2 separate regions of the Homo sapiens genome follow, and region 2 is linked to region 1. The links come from fine-mapping of genetic effects on plasma protein levels. Region 1 holds a variant in brackets. A gene starts in the other region. All regions are shown on one strand. Distances are from middle to middle.

Evidence for each region. PIP is the chance, under the fine-mapping model, that this variant and not a neighbour inherited with it causes the effect. Protein levels are from antibody-based Olink assays in UK Biobank. Linkage for the fine-mapping came from a reference panel and not from the study's own genotypes, which makes the PIPs less certain.
Region 2: MUC2 starts here. The variant in region 1 is fine-mapped to the plasma level of the MUC2 protein (UK Biobank, PIP above 0.99).

What each region holds. Positions count from the first base shown.
Region 1 is chr11:77,037,338-77,045,654 of GRCh38, reverse strand. It overlaps B3GNT6 (UDP-GlcNAc:betaGal beta-1,3-N-acetylglucosaminyltransferase 6), which reads right to left. Exons shown (of 2, transcript NM_138706.5): 2 at 3,682-6,103. The coding sequence starts at 6,103. The coding sequence ends at 4,949. Among named protein-coding and RNA genes, the nearest start is that of ACER3-AS1, 5.8 kb to the right of the region's middle. The variant T/C (reference allele first, on the strand shown) is at 5,114.
Region 2 is chr11:1,070,963-1,079,279 of GRCh38, reverse strand. MUC2 (mucin 2, oligomeric mucus/gel-forming) reads right to left here and starts at 4,406. Exons shown (of 58, transcript NM_002457.5): 1 at 4,303-4,406; 2 at 3,359-3,629; 3 at 1,712-1,826; 4 at 1,238-1,328; 5 at 1,048-1,157; 6 at 758-968. The coding sequence starts at 4,378. LOC107987157 (a long non-coding RNA gene) reads left to right here and starts at 5,846. Exons shown (of 5, transcript XR_007062544.1): 1 at 5,846-6,015; 2 at 7,855-8,160. RefSeq lists enhancers at 392-933, 959-1,459.

The sequences.
Region 1 (8,317 bases):
CTGTGGTGGGCATAATAACGGCCGCCCAAAAAGTTGCCCATACCCTACTGAATACCTGGAACCTGTGACTGATGCATGTTACATAAGAATGTTACATGTGGCATGTCACCATGTTACATGGCAAAGAGAAGTAAGGTTGGAGGTAGAATGAAGGTTGCTCATCAGCTGACTTTAAGATAGGAAAAGAATCCCAGGTTATCTAGGTAGGCCCAGTGTAGTTACAGGGTCCTTGGAAGTGGAAGGAGAAGGCAGGAAAGTCAGAGAGTGATGTGGCTGTGGAAGCAACGCACCAAGAGCCGCCACATGGTCGGTTTTGGAGATGGAGGAAGGAGGTCTCTGCAAGCTGGAAAAGGCAAAGAAATGGATCCTTCCCTAGCACCTCCAGTAAGGAGTGCAGTTGGTGGGTAGAGCTGTAGGGTAACAGATGAGTGTGCTTTTAAGCCAAGCTTGTGGGAATTTGTTACAGCAGCAATAGGGAACTAGTACAGTATCCTAACACAGGGGTCCCCAATCCCTGGGCCAATGACCGGTATTGGTTGTGGCCTGTTAGGAACCGGGCTGCACAGCGGCAGGTGAGCAAAGCTTCATTTGTAATTTATAGTTGCTCCCTATCGCGTGCATTACCACCTCAGCTCCGCCTCCTGTCAGATCAACGACAGCATTAGATTCTCATAGTAGCATGAACCCTATTGTGAACTGCGCATGTGAGGGATCTAGGTCGCCTGCTCCTTATGAGAATCTACTGCCTGATAATCTATCACTGTCTCCTATCACCCCCGATGGGACTGTCTAGTTGCAGGAAAACAAGCTCAGGGTTTCCACTGATTTTACATTATGGTGAGTTGTATAATTATTTCATTATATATTACCATGTAATAATAATAGAAATAAAGTGCACAATAAATGTAATGCACTTGAATCTTCCCCAAACCATCCCCCACGTTGGTCTGTGGAAATATTGTCTTCCACAAAACCAGTCCTTGGTGCCAAAAAGGTTGGGGACTGCTGTCCTAACAGATACAGTCCACATCACTGGGACAGATGGCACTCATCCACTCATCCATTCACCCCAAAAGCATGTAGGAGTATTTGTTATGGCCTGCTCAGAAAATAGATCAGCAAGTGACAAGTGGCTGTGGCTACTGAAGGCCCACGGCAAGGGCTGCAGAAAGGTCACAGAAGTGCCACCTCCTCCTGCTTCCTTCAACCTCTCAGAGCTGCCAGTAAGCCTGCAGAATGACAGTACCCTCCTATGTGGTTTACAGAGGATTTACATGGCCCTGGCATGGAACATCACTGTGGAAAGTGTATTAGTCCATTTTCACACTCCTATAAAGAATACTACCTGAGACTGTGTAATTATAAAAGAAAGAGGTTTAATTGACTCACAGTTCTGCAGATTTAACAGGAAGCATGGCTAGGAGGCCTCAGGAAACTTACAATCATGGCGGAAGGCGAAGGGAAAGCAGACACCTTCTTCATGGGCAGCAGGAGGGCGTGTGTGCGAGAATGAGGAAGTGCCGCGCTTTAAAACCATCACCTCTCGCGAGAACTCACTATCACGACAAGAACGTGAGGGAATCCGACCCCGTGATCCAATCACCTCCCGCCTGTCCAGTCCTACGTGTCCCTCCCCTGACATGTGGGAATTACAATTCAAGATGAGATTTGGGTGGGGAAACAGAGCCAAATCTTATCAGAAAGAGCGGCTCAGAGAGGTGAGATGACCTACTCAAGTTCCAGGAGTGGGAGTGATGGGACTTGCCACGGATTCCCTCTGTGTAAATCTGTGACAGCCCTGATGTAAATCAGACATGGCCTCTCCCTCTGGGAGCAGCCAGTCTACTTGGTGAAAAACAAGGGATGAAAGGGGACACAGCAGGTGACTTAAGTGCTATGGTTGGAATGTTTATGTTTCCCCGGAATTCTTTTTTTTTTTTTTTTTTTTGAGACAGAGTCTTGCTCTGTCGCCCAGGCTGGAGTGCAGTGGCGTGATCTTGGCTCACTGGAAGCTCCGCCTCCCAGGTTCACGCCATTCTCCTGCCTCAGCCTCCCGAGTAGCTGGGACTACAGGTGCCTGCCACCATGCCCGGTTAATTTTTTTGTATTTTTAGTAGAGACGGGGTTTCACTGTGTTAGCCAGGATGGTCTCTATCTCCTGACCTCGTGATCTGCCCGCCTCAGCCTCCCAAAGTGCTGGGATTACAGGCGTGAGTCACCACACCCGGCCCCCCGGAATTCTTACGTTGAAATCCTAGCCCTGAAGGTGACGTGGTGATGATGTGATGATGGCAGAACCCTCACCAATGGAATCTGGGCCGCTGTAAAAGAGGCCGTGGGAGCTTGCTTGCCCCTCCCACCATGCAGTGACACAGCAAGAAGGCAGTGAGGAATGGGCCCTCGCCAGACACCAAACCTGCTGGGACCTTGACCTTAGACTTCCCAGCCTCCAGAACTTTCAGAAATGTTTGTAAGACACCCAGTTTATGGTATTTTTGTTACAGCAGCCTGAACAGACTAAAACACTAGCAGGGCAAGGCTGCTGTAACAGTAGACAAACCCCAGAAGCTGAAAAATCATAAAAGTTTTTGTCTATATTGTTCTGTCCATAATTTTTTTTAAAAGCATAAAAGTTTATTTTGTCTTCCTCAGTAGTCTGAACTGAGTATTCCAGGTTGGTCCCCGGGCTGCTCTGCTCCGTGCAGGAACTCAGGAATCCTCGTTTCTCTGCCTTCCTCTAGGCCAGCGGTTCTCTGCTAGGGTGAATTTTCCCACCAGGGTATGTTTGGCAACGTCTGGAGATACTTTGGGTGTCATGACTTGGGCTGTGATACTGGTATCTAGTGAGTGGAGGACATGGATGCTGCTGAATGTTTTACAATGCACGGGACTGCCCCCCACAACAAAGAACCGTCCTGCCCCAAATGTCAGTAGTTGAGAAACTTCCACTTGGGCCTGAAGCATTGTCCTCACTTGCAAAGTCAGAGCTGGGTCCCAGGCCCATCCATGTTCCAGCGAATGGGAAGGAGGAAGAGAGCATAAGCAGGCCCAGGTGCCACAGTGATCCTCATCCACTCCCGTCCATCCATGAGGGCCTAGTCACAGGGCCACATCTAACTTCAGGGGACGGAGTGCTGGGAAATGGAGTCTAGGTGAGTGCCCAGGAGGAAGGGAACAGCCGACTCAGGTGGGCAGCTGGCAGCTTCCCCGACAGGCGTCCTAACTGGTGCAAGAGACATGCAGGATGGAGGTGGTTGGAGGACATTTCGGTAACTAGGTCAGAGCTTGTGCAAAATGCAGAGACAAGAGAGAGCCTGACAAAGCGCAGGCACTGCCACCTGGATGGAGGCTGACAGTGGGAGGGAGGGATCAGTGAGCAGCAGGCGGGTGGCAGGAGCCTGAAATGCAGGACTGAGGAGTCTAGTCTTCGTCCTGAAGGCAGGGAAGGACCTTTGGCCAGTCTCCTGACGTTCTGCCCCGGCTCTTTCCTCCCTGAAGGTGAGTCCCTCGTGTCCATCTTACATAGTTGGGACCTTGCTGACACACACTTCTGCCTGCCTTTAGGCCGTTTCCTTGATTTTCTATGTTGCCAAGATGACTGGCAGCTGCTGGAGGTCAGGACCACAGCCTGGTTCTCAGAGCCCCAGGCACCAAGTTCCCACCCACCCTTGCAAACTCTCCTTTTTTTTTTTTTTTTTGAGATGCAGTCTTGCTCTGTCGCCCAGGCTGGAGTGCAGTGGCACGATCTCGGCTCACTGCAACCTCCGCCTCCCAGGTTCAAGTGATTCTCCTGCCTCAGCCTCCCAAATAGCTGAGATTACAGGCACGAGCCACTATGGCCGGCTAATTTTTGTACTCCCAATAGAGACGGGGTTTCACCATATTGGCCAGGCTGGTCTCGAACTCTTGACCTCATGATCCGACCTCCTCAGCCTCCCAAAGTGCTGGGATTACAGGCGTGAGCCACCTCGCCCGGCCCCACAATCTTAACCACTGTCCACTTCGGTCTCAGATCCCCCACCTCCCGAACACAATTCTACACACCTGCCTCCACAGGCTCCCCAACACTGGCCTCCATGTTCCCACCAGCCTTTCTCCACTTCGGACTCCCCGGAACTCCCTGCTGGGTTGTCCAAGGCCCACTGAGCCTGAGGCCCAGACCCCGGCAAGGAGCCTGTCTCTGACCCGTGGGGGTGATTATTGGCGGGCAGGACCCAACTAGGCCATTAGCTTTGGTTGGGGTGAGTGTGGAGGGGACCACAGTGGTGTGCTGTCTGGGAATGCCACGGCCCTGGATTAGTCACTGTCTGACCGGGCCTCTGGTTTCCACTTTGCACGGTGAAGATTTCTACCTCACGGTGTACTGGGGTAGTGGTGGGAAGAAGGCCACCACATGCGCCTCAGCTGCGTGTTGGCTGACTTCTTGGGGGAGGGGGAAGCGGGATCCACCTGATACTGTCAGCCCAGCTCCAGCTCCACTCACTTGTAAACAGTGGAAATCACAACTGACATTTGTAGGCACATGGCAGGGGGCGCTGATCCTGGCTCCCACGCTCCCAGGTCTCCCTTGCTCCACTGCTCAAGAGGACCCGAGTGTGGGAGCGAGGGGCCCGGAATTCTTGCAGAGAGGGCGGTGGAGCTGGCTTTGCGAGGATGAAGAGATAGTCTAGCCGAGTGGTCCTCAGGCCTAGCTGCACATTCGCATCACTGGAGGAACTTAAAAAATACTTAACATGTCTGGGTCCACCCCAGACTAATCAAATCGAAACTTCGGGAGATGGAGCCAGGATGTAGGCATTTTCCACACCCCCCACCCCAGCTGATTTCAGTGCGCAGCTGGGGTTCAGGTGCACAGAGCTGGGCAGGACGTAAGGTACCCAGAGCGGGAAAGCTGCCTTCTCAGCATGGACATGGTTGGAGGCCCGGGGCTGAAGCCGCCCAACTGGCCTCAGGAGACCCGGTGTCCCCGGTCACAGCTGAGCGCGGGGCTGTGCAGCGCCTTCCACATGAGCAGCATCTCGTAGGGCGCGAAGCGGTGCACTAGCAGCAACTCGCGGTACATGCAGGGGTCGAAGGAGGACTGCTGTGCGCCAGGCAGCTGCACGCCGAAGGG[T/C]CGGATGCCCTCGTGGCCGCTGGGCGCCAGGCCGGCGCGCTCCAGACACATGCCCATGTAGGCGTCGTCGATGGGGAAGAGCGGGGTGTGGCGGGCGGCCGCGCGCAGGGCCCGGGCCGTGGGGCCGGACAGGAGGAAGCCGCCGCCGCTGCAGTACACCGGGTAAGCGGACCCGGGGAAGAGCTGCGGCGGCACGAAGTACTTGCTCCAGCTGTCGCGGATGGGCACGGAGCCCTCCATGAGCTGGCCGGAGAACAGGTGGCGGCCGGGTGGCTGCGCCTGCAGGAAGCGGACTACGTTGGCGGTGTGCACGAACACGTCGTCGTCGCCGCTGAGCAGAAAGCGCGCGTGCGGGCAGCGTGCAGCCAGCCAGTCGAGCAAGTGCAGGTGCTTGAGCGTGAGGTTGAGGAAGGTGTCCGCGAAGGCCCACTGCAGCACGTCGCCGTGCTCGCGCGCCTCCAGCGCCACCAGCTCCGCCAGCCGCTCCGCGCGCGCCTCGTCCTCGGGGCCCGGGGTGCCCAATAGAAAGAGGCGGCGCACTGGCCGCCCGCCGTAGCTGCGCTCTTGCCCCCACGTGCGCCGGATGAGCTCGCGTCGCTCGTAGTGCTCAGGCGCCGACTTCACCGCCAGGAGCAGGAACACGCCTCGGCCGCCGGCGCACTTGGCCGGTGCGTCCCAAAGCAGCGGGAAGTGGCGGCAGTGGCGGTACCGCAGGAAGTCCTGGATGCGCGCGGGCAGCTGCTCGAAGTCGGCCGTGGCGTTCGCCGAGGCGTTCGCCACGCACGGGGGCCCGGGGACGAGCTCCGAGGGCGGCTCGTCAGCCGCGGGAGCGTCGGTGGGACCCTCTGGCGTCTCCTCCTGCGGGGACCTCTCCTCCCGCGGGGACCTTGGCGCCTGGAGGAACCACTGCTGCAGTGCTAAGAAACTCACGCCCACCAGGAGGCAGGCCAGAGTCTTGGCAGTCAGGGACCTGCGGCAGGGAAAAGCCATCTGTGGGGGAAACCGAGTCAGAGGTGAGCCGGAAGTCGTCTTTGACACCGGCAGGACACCACCCGTACCCCGTCACTTCTCTCCCAGAACCCAGCTCCAGCCCCTTCTCAACTCTGCTGTTAAGTGGTAAAAAGGAATCAAAATCCAAGATTACACTGACGGTCTCTGGTCTCCCACACTCCGGACCGTTCCTCTGACCTTCAGATTTGAGTCTCTCTTTGCCTCCTGACAACACCGCCCCACAACCCGTCACATAGGCCCAGTGGACTCATCGTCTGAGTCTCCATCTTCCCCTGAACCCATACCCTGCTGTTCCCACCTCCGTTCACCTGACTACTCCAGCCAGAAGCCCCAGCCTTCTTCCTTGTCCTTCTCAGCTGCTACCTGCTCTCCGCATCCTGTTGATTCTGCGCCCTACATCCCTCTCATTTATTCCCTCCTCTCCGCCTCTGTCCAGCTCGGATCATCTCTAATCACTTCCCCTCGTTGCCTCCCGAGTCGAGGAAGCATGAGGTGATAGCACTGAACTCAGACCCAGAGCCGAATTCTGCCATCCCCACTTCCCCATCTGCACCGTCTGAACAGTCAGTTCCGATGGCTGGGTCTGAGTGTTCTCATCTGTGACGAAGGGTTAGTGAATTCCTACTGCAGGGCTGTTGTGAGCATGAAATGAGTATGAAGTGGCCAGTGACTGGGTGACACGGGTGATATGACCTTATGGGTGAGATGATCTCCACGGCATCCTCTAGCTCTGCCTCCTCATTCTACCTGCTGGTATTATTTGCTGTTCCCAAACATTCACCTTCAGGCCCTCTCCTGCATGTAGCCTGCCCAGGTGCACCTCAGGCCTGGCTTTTATGAAGACCCCCAGGACGAATCCCAGGTCAGAACAACCTTTCCCGTATTTAACTGTGCCCTGCTAAAAATTCAGTCACATCAGGTTCTGCATCTCAGACCGTTGGCTATTTATTTATTTGAGACAGGGTCTTGCTGTGTCACCCAGGCTGGAGTGCAGTGACACCATCATGACTCACTGCAGTCTTGACCACCTAGGCTCAAGCAGTCCTCCCACTTCAGCTTTTGGAGTAGTTGAGGCGCTCTACAGGAGCGTGCCACCACACCTGGGTCATTAAATTTTTTTTTTTTTTTTTTTCTGTAGAGACGGGTTCCCACTATATTGCCCAGTCTGGTCTTGAACTCCTGGGTTCAAGTGATCCTCCCACCTCAGCCCCGAAAAGTGCTGGGATTACAGGCATGAGCCACTGTGCCCCGTTCCTTCTCCCTCCTTAAAACAGACTCTACGCTCTCCTGCCTTTCCTCCTTTCTTTTTGACCATGTTTCTCAGTTCCCTTTGCTCAGTTCCCCCTCTCTAATAACCTCCTCCTCCTCTTCCCCCTCCCCCTCCCCTCCTCCTCCCCCTCCTCCCTCCTCTATCCTCCCTTCTCTCCCTCCCCCTCCTCCTCCCCCTCATCCCCTCCCCCTCATCCCCTCCCACTCATTCCCCTCCCATCCTATCCCTCTCCTCCCCCTCCTCCCATATCCCCCTCCTCCCCCTCCTCCTCCCTCTTCCCCCTCCCCTTCCCCCCTCCTCTTCTTCTTCTTCTTCTTCTTTCTTCCTTTCTCCTTCTTCTTTTTTTTTGAGACAGGGTCAGACTCTGTCACCTAGGCTGGAATGCAGTGGTGTGATCGTGGCTCACTGCAGTCCGCACTTCCCAGGCTCAGGTGATCCTCCCACCTCAGCCTCCCAAATAGCTGGGACCACAGGCATGTGCCACAGTGCTTGGCTAATTTTTTCTATTTTTTGTAGAGACAGTGTCTTGCCATATTGTCCAGGCTTGAGCTCAAACTCTTGGGCTCAAGTGATCCTCCCGCCTTGGCTTCCCAAAGTGCTGGGATTACAGGTGTGAGCCACCGCACCTGACCTCTCTAATAATAACCTTTAATAGTGGAAGGCCTCTAGGGCTCTGACTTAGACACTCATTTCACCTTTGTCCAAGATGGTCTCCTTCACTGTTAGGACCTCCGAGCTCCAGAGCCACATGTCCATCCAGCCGCCTGACTTAACAGCTCCATATGGCTGTCCACAGCCACCTTGGATGCTACTTGAACTCTCATCTTCCTCCCCCAAGCTGTCCCGGAGTGCTGCCATCCCCTGGGTTGTTCAAGCCCAAAACCTTGCTTGACTCCCTCCTTCCCCTCGTTTCCCCACCCAAG
Region 2 (8,317 bases), 76 Mb after region 1:
GTGGTGAGTGTCCCCCCAGCTCCCGGTGCCCGGCACGGTGAGTGTCCCCCCAGCTCCCGGTGCCCGTCACAGTGAGTGTCCCCCCAGCTCCCGGTGCCCGGCGCGGTGAGTGTCCCCCCAGCTCTCGGTGCCCGTGGTGAGTGTCCCCCCAGCTCCCGGTGCCCGGCACGGTGAGTGTCCCCCCAGCTCCCGGTGCCCGGCGCGGTGAGTGTCCCCCCAGCTCCCGGTGCCCGGCACGGTGAGTGTCCCCCCAGCTCCCGGTGCCCGGCACGGTGAGTGTCCCCCCAGCTCAAGGTGCCCGGCACGGTGAGTGTCCCCCCAGCTCCCGGTGCCCGTGGTGAGTGTCCCCCCAGCTCCCGGTGCCCGGCACGGTGAGTGTCCCCCCAGCTCCCGGTGCCCGTCACGGTGAGTGTCCCCCCAGCTCCCGGTGCCCGTCACGGTGAGTGTCCCCCCAGCTCCCGGTGCCCGGCACGGTGAGTGTCCCCCCAGCTCTCGGTGCCCGTGGTGAGTGTCCCCCCAGCTCCCGGTGCCCGGCACGGTGAGTGTCCCCCCAGCTCAAGGTGCCCGGCACGGTGAGTGTCCCCCCAGCTCCCGGTGCCCGGCACGGTTAGTGTTCCCCCAGCTCAAGGTGCCCGGTGCGGTGAGTGTCCCCCCAGCTCAAGGTGCCCGGCACAGACACAGCTCCCACCCGGGCTTGGGGAAAGCACCAGCGTGGGGTCTCCCTGGGGTCCCCTGCCCACAAGGCGCCGGGGCTTACGGCAGAGCGTGGCGGTCCTCCAGTTCCCGGGCCGGCCGCCGGCGTGGGAGCACTGGCGGGAGAACTCGGCCACGGTGCTGCAGACGCAGGTGTCACCGCCCGGGCACCGGCAGCGGTCCTGCTGGCAGGCGCGCAGATACGGCTCCAGCGGCACCAGGTCCTGACAGTCCGCGAAGGCCTCGGCGGTCAGCAGCCTCTCACACTCGGCGCGCTGGGGACAGACGCAGGGTGAGCATGCTATTCAGAGGCCAGCTCCGCCAGGACCCCCACCCCGGACCGAGGGGACTCACGTGCTCGGAGCAGGATGCGGGGGCCACCTCCTCCTCGGGATCCTCACACACCACATCGGGCTGGTTGATCTTCTGCATGTTCCCAAACTCCAGGGGACTGAAGAGCACGCCTGGGGATGCACGGCCCTTCAGCTAGGGCTCCTGGGGGCCCGTAGCCTACCCTGCCCCCTCCAAGCCCTCCGGGCCTCACCGTCAGAGAGGAATTCTGAATAGCTCTGCAGGCCGTTGTAGTCCCCGCAGAGGCCACAGGTGTGGTTCCGGAACTTAGTGTCCAGCTCCAGCTGTTGCGGGAGGGAGCAGGTGAGCTGGCCTCCCGCCCGGCCCACAGCCGCCAGGAACCCCCAAGACTCGTGGCTTGTTTGAGCCAGAGGAAGGTGGGGCAGGAAGGCTGGGGTCAGCAGCCAGGGAGCGGCCTGGCAGGGCAGGTCCCTGAGAAGCCGAGTGCGTTTGGGGGAAGGCTGAGGCCTGGGGGGGTCAGGGCCAGGTCGGCTTCTGCTGCTGCCCCCCAAGTCCAGCACCGACGCCCTGCGCTGCCGAGGCCCTGCCCCACCCATGCCCTCTCGGTGAGGGGTCAGAGCACTGCCCTCCCTGCCCTCCCTTGGGGTCTGCCCAGAGGCCTGACGGAGCCCCCACCAGCCCCACGAGTCCGGGGACCCCTGAGCACCATGAGTGCATCCTCCCGGTTCCACATGAGGGTGAGGCCGGCGCGGGAGTAGACTTTGGTGTAGGCATCGCTCTTCTCAATGAGCAGCCCGGGGCTGTAGTGCGGGGTGCTGACCCTGGCGGAGGCACATCGGGGTCACTCTTGGGTCCACCACCCAGGCCCCCCCGCCCCAGCTTGTCCTCCCGGGACCCCGCCGCCCAGAGGGGACTGAAGCTGGGCACCTGGGGTGGTGGAGATGGCTCTGCCAGGCCCAGCTCCTGCCCTGGGATCACCAACTTGGCCGGCCTCTGGGGTGGAGGGACATAGGCAGTGGCCAAAGAGCACCTGTCCATCTCCGCTGGCCGGGCTTCCCCGGCAGAGCCACCTCCTGCCTGCACGCCCCTCCTCTCCACTCCCTCCTCGGGGCACGGTCCTGGGCAGGGTCCCCCCTCAGAGGCCCTGAGGGCACCAGGTTGGGAGAGGAGGGAGGACCAGGCTGCCCAGCCCCCTTCCAGGCCCCCTGCTTGGTGGAACATCCCCCCATGGGGTCCCAAACCCCCCAGAGCCCCCCAGGCTGCCCCTGAGAACGTCAGGGGCCCTACCCCACCTCCTGCCAGTGCCCCTTGCTGGTCCAGGTAGAGGCACTCACCCCAGCCTCTGTGCCTCGGTCCTCAAGGGCCTCTACCTGCCTGCCCATGCCTGAAAGCCTCTACCCACCCACCTGCCAACACCCATGCCTGAGGGCCCCTACCCACCCACCCGCCTGCGCCCATGCCTGAGGGCCTCTACCCACCCACCTGTGCCATGCCTGAGGGCCTCTACCCACCCACCCACCTGCGCCCACACCTGAGGACCTCTACCCACCCGCCCGCACCTACGCCTGACGGCCTCTATCCACCCACCCGCGCCCACGCCTGAGGGCCTCTACCCACCCACCCGCCTGCACCCATGCCTGAGGGCCTCTACCCACCCACCCGCGCCCACACCTGACGGCCTCTACCCACCCACCTGCCCATGCCCACACCTGAGGACCTCTACCCACCCGCCTGCACCCATGCCTGACGGCTTCTATCCACCCACCCGCCCGCACTCACGCCTGAGGGCCTCTACCCACCCGCCTGCCCATGCCCATGCCTGAGGGCCTCCACCCGCCTGCCCATGCCCATGCTGGGGCGCCTTGCAGGAAACTAAATCCCCAGGCAGAAGAGGGGCAGGCGCTGGATGGGAACGCACTTACAGGGCCTCATTGTTCTGGAGACAATAGGGGAGCAATAGCTGGGGATGGGGAAGGGGGTCCCACAGCCCCCTGCACCGGCTTCTGTAACTCTAGCCTGGGGAGGGCACACACGGCCACTCCATGCACAGGACCAGAGACATGCAGCCTCCAGGGGTGCCAAGTCTGTCCGGAGCCTGGTGGGCTCCGAGGGGAGGGGCTGTCAGGGACACACAGGCAAAGGGATAACTGAAACCCCTTGCCTATGGGGGGAATGGTGGGGGCTCATCAGTGTTTGTTGAATGAATTAGTGACCTGAACCCAAACCTCAAGGCTGTTCTCCTGAGCTGTGTGCTGGGGCGGAAGGGGTCTTCTAGGGCTACAAGGAATATCCCTTTGGGAAACATCAGCCCCCGTTGCTAGGATGTGGGAGGGGTGCCACCGACCACACTCACACGGCCCCGTTAAGCACAGCCAGGTGGCGGGTGAGGTAGATGGTGTCATCCTTGATGGTCAGCAGGATGGACTCCACCCCGGCGGGGGCCTCAGCCTGGCCCGGACCCCGCTTCAGGTGCACAGCAAATTCCTTGTAGGAGCCTCGGCAGTCGGAGGCGAAGTTGTAGTCGCAGGGGCCGGGGAAGCGGAAGACGTCCCCGTCGAAGGTCTTGTAGTGGAAGTTGCCCCAGGTGCTGCAGACGTTGTGGCCGTGGTTTCGGGTTCTGCCCTCTGAGGGAGCAGCGGGGAATGAGGGGTGAGTGGCCCCGGAGGGGGAAGGCTGCCCAAGCTACCCTCGAGAGAAGGCCCCTGAAGAAGCACCTGGAAGCAGCTTCGAGCCCAGCACAGGGCCCCTGGCCGGGAAAGGTTCCTTCCTATCCTCGGGCCCTCTGCTGGGCCTTGGTCACCCCACCACAGGGGTCTCAGGGCTTCTACCCCCGGCCTGGTGAGGAGTGCGGCCGGGTGCCAAGCGGGATGTAGGAGAGGGCATTCTGGGCACCCCGCTCCCCAGCAAGGGCTGTGCTGCCCCAACTCTTCAAGGGTCTCTGCCACCTGAGAATGGGGCCTTCTGGTGGGATCCTGGCCACCCCTTCCTCCCCTATGGACAATGACCCAGTTCACTGGGGCCTGACCTGCTGTTTCCACCTGGTGCTGGCCCCAAGACCCACACTGTCGTCGGGCAGTCAACCCCAAAGGAATAGCAGGGGAGCCCCGACCTTCCAGCTCCTTGAAAGTCAGCAGGGCCGGGGGCTTCCAGGGACCAACCCGGGCCAGGAGCCTCAGCAGAGCCGCGCAGGCTGCACTCTGGGACCAGCTCCTCCTCCCAGACGCGACTTGCCCGCCCGCCTCGCCCTGCCCCCAGGACACTCTGCCAGGCCCCAGACCCCTGTGTCTGCTCTCTCACCTGTCTGGAGCTCCGAGCCCCCTGCCAAAGACAGGGCCAGGCACACAGCCGCCAGGCGGGCTAGTGGCAGCCCCATGGTGGCTGGCAGGGGCGGTGTGGGTTGCGCCCGGGGGCAGGGGTCTGGTCCTTATATGTCCTGGCAGGAGGGTAGGAGGGCAGGAAGGCAGGGGAGGGCCAAGGGTGGGTGTGGCATCTGCCAGATGATCAAGAAGACAGCTGCGGGGGCCCGAGCCCCAATGGGGAAATATTGATTCAGGTTATCGGAGGTCATCTCTTTATGGCTCCCTGGGTAAACGCAGCCTTCTTCAGGATGAGGCAGCCCTGTAGCCTGAATGCCAACACACACCCGGGGAACACATGCAGCTACTAGAGGGGCGAGCCCAGGGTGGCCGGGGGAGGGGTGTCCTGCCAGAAGCAAGTCTGGTCAGGCTCCTTAGCCCGCCATGGGCCCCCAGACACCCGCTGAGCAGGTCCCCAGGCCTGATCAGGCTCACGTTACGCTGGGAGGACCAACCCATTCCTGGGGCCCAAGCTCTGGGGCAGCTTCCAGGCCTGACCCCAGAAAGGGGCCTCCCCGAGGGCAGGGAGGATGTGGGATCCTTCAGGGTCCGGGGGGGCCACTGACTTGTGTGGGACTCTTGGCCGGGCTCATGGAGCTGTGTCAGAGGCCCCAGCCCCCAACCACCCCCTATGCCCATCCTTTTCCCAGGCTGAGCCCTTCTCTGCAGTTACATGTAATTAGAACTTGGGGAGTACATGCCCAGCCAGGGGACATGTTACGGAATCAGGCACACAGGGAGCTGGCTGGTGGCCGGAAGTGGCCGTCTGCCCCTTCTCCTGGGGACCACATGAGGACCTCGGGCCTGACAGCTGAGGAGGTGACAGCCTGCCCAGGCTCCCCAGAACTACCTCTGACTCATGGTGGGGATCCTGCCCCCAAGGCTGTGCCTTTGATGAGCCTTGGTCTCGCCCACCAATCCCAGCAGTTGTCTGGAAAAAAGCCTGGAGAACCGGAACTCACACCGACCCCAGACTACGAGACCACTGGGCCCACCACTGCTTGCCCCGGCCCGGGAGGGCACAGGCAGGCACCCCTGTGTCGCCAGTGGGTAAACTGAGGTCTGGGGGCCCTCCCCTCTCTCTACAATTTTCTCCTCCTGAAAATAGAGAGGGGCCCTGAGTTGAGTTCCTGGCTTTGGCCTGAACATGCCAGGGACATGCCGGCAGCATGATGGCAGTGGGGAGGGACTCACCCCAACAGTTATAGAGACTCGGGGCCCAAAGCACCAAGCCTGTTTCCCTGGCTGACCTGCTGCCCAGACCCAGGGCCTGGGACGAAGCCCCTCCCGCCCTCCTGCGGTGCCCGCCAGCACCAGGCCCCAGGGTCTGCGCTCCCTGCCAGGACCTGGGCACGTGGAGGAAGCTCAGTGTGTGGCCCCTGCCAGGAGGACCGGGGATTAGGAAACCAGAGCCAGCTGGGCGAGGCCAGAGGAGATCATTGTTCACTTCCTGGTGTGGGCCTCCGCACACTGGCACTGAGCCCTGGGGAAACCCAAGGACGGCCCCAACTGCAGTCCCCTGACCCTGACATGCCCCAGGCGGGCCTCAGGACAGAGATTTTCCAGGCCAGGCTCCCCCTGCCCTGGGGGGATTGGAGGAATCCTAGCGGAGCACAAGCTGCCCAGCACAGCCCCTCCAGCCCTGAAGCCTGAGGTAGGTCCCCTAGATCTGACCCTGTGTCCCCTCTGGACGGGCAGTGGTGGTTCCCAGGCTCAGGGGTCTGACCCCAACACCCCTCTTGGCCCATGGCAAGGTCCCAGGTAGGAGCCCTGTCTGAGGTTACAGGCAGCCCTGCATGGGGCAGGGTGCAGAGAGCTGAACCCCATTCCTAACGGGGAAAGGGAGCTGTTCTGGGGAAGAGGACAGTGAGGGCTCCATCAGGCCGGGGCGACTATGGAGTCACTGGCACCCCCAAAGCGAGAGTGTCCCCAGCCTCTTTGCCTCCAAGCCTCAGCCGGTCCCCACTGCCAGATTCGCAGCATCTACTGTGGTGGTGGAGGCGATGGGGGCCAGGCAGTTCCACAGCACTGCATCCCCTCTCTCCCCACGTCCTGTGTTGGTCCAAATGTGGCCCCCATTGCTGGTTACTGAAATGTCGGCCTCCAGCAAGTGCAGAGTGGGAGAGTGGGCAGCCGTATTGCCCTGGGACCCCATCGCCACTCTGTGGCTTTCCCATGGGGTTCGAGGGACCCTGGTGGAGGGAGAGAGTGGGGGCTTTGACCACTCCGAGGAAAATGCTTGTCGGTTCTGCTTTCTGTGACAAGAACATGATGGCAGTGGTGGGAATGACCACCCACCCAACGGCGGGCCGGACACAGTTGAGCCAGGAGCCCACATCCCCAGCCCCATGTCAGGCTGCCCCAGCCTCAGGCCCCGGCTGGGACTCAGAACGAGGCTGCATGGAGTACAGCCTCCCACACAGACAGCATCCTGGAGTACAGCCTCCCACACAGACAGCATCCTGGAGTACAGCTTCCCACACAGACAGCATCCTGGCCCCCCCAGCCTCTCCCCACCCTGCCCACGCCCAACATGTTTACCGTGACAAGACACTGTTGCCAACGGCTGCATGGAATTTGCAGTAGTGACTGCAGGGAGGAGGCAGCACTGACGTCACATGGCACCTGAAGTGACGGCCCCCCTACTGTGTATCCACAAACCTGACTCACCAGGAAGCCCGGGTGAGGGGCATGTGGGGGTCAGAGCCACCGGAGGAAGAGGGAGAGGGAAAGGAGGAGGAGGAAGGGGAAGGGGAAGAGGAGGCTGGGGAGGGGGCGAGAAGAGAGAACCCCTATGCTGCTGGGGGAGCCAAAGACAGCAGGTGCGTCCCCTGCACACGTCCCGGTCGCTCGAACGGTGGCTTTGTGAGTCGGCCTGTCTGGCCATGGCTCCAGTCTTTGGCATGGCGCCGGGCTGGATGCTGCTGTGAAGGGACTTCTTAAATGTGACCCTGGCGAAGCAGGTGGGTCTGACACAATCAGTGCAGGGCCTTGAAAGAAAAGACCTTGGTCCTCCAAGGAGCAGGACGTGCTGCCTCCAGGACGTGCTGCCTCCTGATGGCCTCCGGGGGTCTCCAGCCTGAGGCCCACCCTAGGCTGCCTGAAGTAATGGCCCATGCCCCACTGATTGCTTCCCTGGAGTATCACCACCCACCCCCGCAAGCACTCCCCATGTGGCCAATACCTCTCCCACGGGGGCGGGAGACCAGTCACAGAGCCTGCTTTCCTGGAGAGCACTCCACCCGCCCACACCGCAGCCCTAGGTATCCCCACGTGGCAGCCCCTGTCTCCCTACATCCTGTGTTGGTCCAAACGTGGCCCCCATTGCTGATTACTGAAATGTCGGCCTCCAGCAAGTGCAGGCTGCCCACATGTCAGTCACATGTGTCATCTGGGGCCATTTTTCCATGTCCCTATGTGGTTGGTCTGATTATTAGCTCACATTACAGAAGGGGAAACTGAGTCACCGAGCATCTTGTGTCTCCATCTCAAGGCCAGCATCTCAGGACACAAGAGGCCAGGCTGGCCCACACCCATTCTGCAGGCCAGAGCCATCCTGCCACAGCCAACCCTGCCAGCACCAGGCTGCCCAGCCCCCAGCCAACTGGGCTTAACCAGGGTGGTGGGGGCTGGCACCCAACCCCAGCGCCACAGCTCTGGCCCTGCCTTGGTGGGCAGATGGAGAGCACACCCAGAGAAGCCGTGGTTCTCAGCCCTCTGGACACCAAGGAGGACCCCAGCTCCAACCCCAGCCCCACACAGGGACACAGTGGCAAGGCCCAGACCTACACCCTGGCAGGTGAGCATCTGAGGATTCAAGGGAGGGCAAATAAAACACCAGTCACGTCCAGCTCTCCAGGGCAGACTCAGACACCCCAAGCATGTCCACTTTCTGGGGCTCCAAAGGTTCGGAGACACCTGGAGGTGTGCACTTCACCTCCCAAGGACTGCAGAGG